2 separate regions of the Homo sapiens genome follow, and region 1 is linked to region 2. A link means that fine-mapping ties the variant in region 2 to the expression of a gene that starts in the linked region. Tissue or cell type: tibial nerve. Region 2 holds a variant in brackets; the other region holds the start of a gene. All regions are shown on one strand. Distances are from middle to middle.

Region 1 (2,500 bases), 110 kb before region 2:
GTGCCATTTACTGAGGTGGGAGGATCTACTGCGTAAACCTCATTTGTTAAGCACTTTACTTGCTTAATATTGCTTACTTGTGGCAGGGCTGGGATTCAAACCCAGGAGGCTCACAACAAAGCTAGCACTCCAAACACTACAGAGTGCTATATAGCTGGTTCTGGGAACTACTAATATTGAGAGGAGACATAGAAAGAGAATGAAGCAAGAGCCAAATCAGACAAGTCTTGGTCAAGCTAAGACGTCTGAATTTTATTTTAAGTGAATGAGACACTGGAGGGTTTTAAGCAGGGAGTGACTTGATCAGACTTACAGTGCAAAATGATCAATCTGACTGCTTCGTGGAGAATGGATTGTAGAGGGGATGTGGGGAGAACTACATCAGTCCAGGCAGGAGATGATGGTGGCTAGAAGGTTGGTGATGGCGGTAGATGCAGAGAAGTAGGCAGACTGGAATACAGTGAGGGTTGTGCGGGAACTTGTACAAATGTGGACAACTTGTGACACTGGAGAGAAAGGACAATCCAATCCAATCCCTATTTGATTTACGGAAGCTCTCCATACGGTCATTCAGCTCAGCTTGAGTCACTCCAGGAACTCACTACCATCACTATTCGTGGGCCAGTGGGAGAGACGGATTGAGGGCAGATCACTGGAGTGATGAAGGCGCTACTTGATGCGGCACTACGTATGAACCCGATCCTGAATGAGAGGGAAAGACTGAGACAGGCTGAGGTCAGGCCTTGAACGTCGTGCTGAGGAGAGGGTGGTATTGTAGGCTTCCCAGCGCCCGACGTGGCTCTGAAAGGTGAGGCGGGGCCTAGATCCCTCACGCTCAGCACAGCCCCGCCCCTGTTACCTGAACGCCCCACAGCAGTGCCCGGGGGCTGAGCGGCCGGGGCGTCCCACCGCCGGCAGCCACAGCTTCCTCCTCCGCCCGGGACCTCTGGCCGGAAGCAGTCCGTTCGCCTTACTAGACCCGCTCCAAGCCTTTGAGCAGTTCGTGTGGGTCCGCTCCCAAGCTAGGGCTGGGCTGTTGCGCTTGCGCCAGGGGTCGCATGCAGTCACGCGCTGCCGACCGCTTCCGGTGCGCCGCGAGGGCCGCCGGGACGGGTCTCCCTGGCGATCCGTGGTGTGCCGCTACTGCCGGTGCAGCCGCCAAACCGGTGCCTCGGTGACGACCGTGTCCCTGCCGTCTTCCTCGAGCTCCCCGGGGCTTGACCCCCGGGGCCCTCGGCAGGCATCGGTGAGGAGCCTGCGGAGCGAACCTGTGCTCCTATTCTTGCCCTTCAGGACCCCATATCGCGACTCCGAGGAGGGGAAGCGAGAGGGGCTGTCGCGACTCCGCGCCGTGTGTCGCCGGGCGGGGCCGCGGGGCCGGGGCTCCTTCAGCCCCCGGGATGCGCGCGCGAGCCCTCGCCTCCACTTCCTTGTTGCTGCTGTCACGACTGGAGCCGCCTCTCGCCGACAGCGGGGAGCGCGAGTGCGCCAGCCATCCCCCTCGTCCAGCCGCCGGGCCAAGCGCCTCCGGGAATGTGAGCGGCGCAGCTTGCACGCTCCTCCGGGTAAGTCCCGCCTTCGAGGGCCGCGCCGAGCCGCTGGGCGACCTCGAGTTGGATGCTGCGGCTCTCTGAGCCTCTACTGAGTCTTCCACAAAGTAGGGCCACTGAGCCTTAGTGTCCTCCTTCCGCAATCCGTATGGGACATTCGGATGTCCCAGACGTCTTAGCTTGACCAAGACTTTGTCTGGTTTGGCTCTTGCTTCATTCATGACCCAGAATGAGGGAAAGGAGCTAGCCCAGAGTCAAACTGTGGCCCATGGCTGAGCCCTCAAAGGCAATCTCGTGAGATTCCAAGGAGGATCTGATGGGACAGAGAAAGTGTCTCGCATATTTCAGGTATTGACCTTAACTCTGTTTTACAGATGAAATAACGGAGACTTAGGGTAAGTAGATTGCTTAAGGTCAGAGGTCCCCGTGCTGGTGCGACTGGTGTAGTCTGTACTAGAACCCGGATTTTCTGTCCTCTAGAGCCCTTCGTTTTTAACCTTAAATTGTCCTGCCTTTTTTTGCATTGCTATACTGCTGCCTCGAGTCTGATAACAAACTTGTACTCAGGCTTAGAACAGGGTAATAAAACAAACAAAACCGTAGGGTGTTGTCTTCCTGCCCTCAGCCCAAGGTGGCTGTAATGAGTGTTTCCTAACCCGTTTTGCGCAGGGTGCTTAGTACCCTATATGCCATTCATTACAGATGCTCTCCTGCAGTTACTGCCCTTCTCCACAAGGCTTTCAGCCGCCCAGAAGTCAATTCAGGGCAAAAAAGCGCAGTCCCCACGTAGCCTTGATTTGAACTACTGCTTCCCTTATCCTTTACTGGCCTATTGCTTACCCAGCCAAGTTGTAGACTGTGTTCTCTTCCTGGGTTGCACTATGGCAGTTAGAATGTAGGTTTTTGTTTTGTTTTTCTTTGTTAGTTTAGTTTTTGTTTTTAATAGGAAG
Region 2 (2,756 bases):
CCATACCCTGTAGCAGGGCTTACAGGGGCCTTTGCAATCTGATCTCTGCCTCTTCTCTCTCCATCCACCCTCCCTGCTGTACTGAACACTTGCAGCTCCTGCATACACCCCCACACTCCTTCTTCCTGTTCCACATACTTCTGCTTCCACCTGGCCCATAAGCCTCCCTTTGCCTGACTGAGTCCCTGTCTTATAGTCTCTCGTGGCTCCCTGAGTTTCCTGGCACTTCTCGCTGTCAACAGAAGCACAGTTATGAGAGTGGTTATTGGTGTGATGTCATTCTGACCCCTTTGTTCTGCAGCAGGAGTTTCCTGGTAGGGCCAGTCTCCCTTCCGGTCTTCTTTATACCCTCTACACCTGGCCCTGCCTGGCAGATGAGTGCTCAGTCAATGCCAGATGCATGAAGAAATGTATAAACAATCCAATGAATGAATGAATAAATGAAGAGCAAGGAGAAGCTCTCCACCCTCCAAAAGCAATTTATTCAGCAAATGCTTCATGTGTCAGGCCTTGTTCTGGGCCCAGGAAGGCCAAGGCTCAGAGCACTTTCCTGCATGCAGGGACCTCACCGCCTGGTGGGAGGTAAGGCAAGTAGCTAAGTGGTGTTATACAGTGCAGCTGATAATATCTGACATCTATGGACATTAACATGATTTGTCATCCAATTTGGAACCTTTGAGACTGGAAGGGGTGCTATTAATAATTGCATTAACACAGGGGCATGAAGAAGGACTGTTCTGGTTGATCCATTGGGCACACTCTTCATGCCAGTCTCTGGACTGAGCTATTTGCACAGATCATCTCATTGATTCTCCCAGCCACCTTAGGGGAAAGCTGTAATTACTCCATGTTACAGATGAAGAAAGACAGGCTCAAAGATGGTAAGTAACCTGCCTGGAGTTAAACAGCTAAGTGGCAGAGCTGGGTTTTAAACCCTGGAACCCAGAGCCAGAGCCCACATGTTCAACCACTGTCTTTCATCAATGGCAGGGGCTCTCAGGAGGATCGAGGGTAAAGGGGAACAGCCTAGGCTTTGGAGCCAGATAGACCAGGAATTCATTCCCCACTCCTAACCACAGCCAGGTCCCCGGCCTTTCAAGGCCTTGTTTCTTCATTATGTAAAATGGGGAAGGGGCTATTGACTCAGATCCAGTGAGACAATAATGCAGGTGAAGGGCATGCAACAGATATTTCTCAATCACTGTCCCTGGCCCTGGGGACATGGTGGTGAACAGGTCAGCTGTGGTCCCTCCCTTCTGCAACTCACAGCCTATTGTCAGAGCCAGGAGAGGAACCAGGCCACTGGGGGAGTTGCAAGATGTCCTGGGATCACCGGAGAGAAGAGTCAAGGAAGGCCCTATCTGAGTTGAGAGGAAGTGAGAAGGGTGAGGAGTTGGGGGAGAGATACAGGGAGGAGGAAGGAATGTTCCAAGAAGGAGAAACAGCACAGTAAAGGCCTGGAGGCGTAAGAGTGCACAGGGTATGGGAGGCTAAGAATGCTGAACAGATGTGAGGGCCCATAAGAGGCACAGACAAAGGAATGCGAAGAGAAATCATTTTCAGCTGAAGAATGAGGAAAGCTTCTTGGAGAAAGTAGCTTTTGCTGGGCTGGAAGCTTGAGCAAGACTTTGACCTTCAGCTATAAAAGACTGGGCATTCTAGGTGGTGACGG[T/C]AGCACCAAAAAAAGGGGCAGAGGTCAGGAAGCTAGTGGCCCACACAAGGTGGATGGACCTTGGAGGGCAGATGTGGGAGAGGCAGTAGGAGAGGTTGGAATCAGATCAGGGAGGGCCTTAAAGATTCCATGAAGGAGTCTCGACTTTGCTGGGCCACGGGGAGCCACTGAAGATGTTTGAGCAAGGGAACACCAAGACCATCACTATGCTTCAGGAAGATCAAGAATGAAAAAGAAAAATTTTCAGATGTGGAAGCTTCCCTCTTGTCTCTTCAGAGGGGAAAAAAGGGACTTAGAATTCTGTGATTTTCCAGAAACTGTGTTACTTCCCCATGTTTGTGACTTTTCTAGTTCCTGCAGTGAAGACCCACAAAATCTAAAACCAGAGACTGTGGATCTGCAAAGGGGAGCTGGGCAAGGGCAGCCTGCTGTGAAGCCCTGCAGGAGAAGGCGAGGAGCCCTGAGCAGGTGGGGGGTGGGAGCTGCTGGAGAGGGCAGACCTGTATGCCAAGAACATGTGGGTGAGGGAAGAGCCAGCTGGGAGGGGGTGGTACAGGGAGACAGTTCGGCTTCTGTGATGTCCCCAGGTCCCTGCCCCAGGCCAATGGTCCCTCGCCAGACCCCTACACAGTGGTGGCAGATTTTCTTCCAAGCTGTGGGAAACTTTCATGGCCCAGAGCGGCCCCAGAACCCCATCCCAAGGAGAAGCCCGCCCCCCCCCCACCACCCAAGAAATTCCAGGAGCCACATTCTGTGTAGGCAGCTGGCCCCTGACCCCAGGGCTCAGCCTGCTGGCCACTCTGAGATCTGGAACTGGACCTAGACACCCCCGGGGAAGGTAGGAGCAGGGAGGCTGGAAGGCAAGAGCCTCCCTGCAGTGACTGTAGCCAAGCCACTTGATGGCTCTGAGCCTCAACCTCCTCATCTGGAGGCTCCTCTCACAGGCTAATCGTGAGGATCCGATGGGACCACTGGTAGGAGCACACCCTACACCATGAGGGACTGGGGCAGAGCAGGGCGGTGAGGGAAGGCTGGGTTTCCCGACGGGTGGGATGCCCTGTCTAGATGTGGGATGATGGATTAG

What was found. PIP is the estimated chance that this variant, and not a neighbour inherited with it, causes the effect.
Region 1: it holds the start of HMGXB3, and the variant in region 2 is fine-mapped to the expression of HMGXB3 in tibial nerve (GTEx, PIP above 0.99).

Annotation. Positions count from the first base shown.
Region 1 is chr5:149,999,615-150,002,114 of GRCh38, forward strand. It overlaps HMGXB3 (HMG-box containing 3), which reads left to right and starts at 1,125. Exons shown (of 20, transcript NM_014983.3): 1 at 1,125-1,565. TIGD6 (tigger transposable element derived 6) reads right to left here and starts at 1,040. Exons shown (of 2, transcript NM_030953.4): 1 at 860-1,040. RefSeq lists enhancers at 264-1,052, 1,940-2,019 and a silencer at 780-859.
Region 2 is chr5:150,106,675-150,109,430 of GRCh38, forward strand. It overlaps a transcript of CSF1R not described here. Among named protein-coding and RNA genes, the nearest start is that of CSF1R, 21 kb to the left of the region's middle. The variant T/C (reference allele first, on the strand shown) is at 1,673.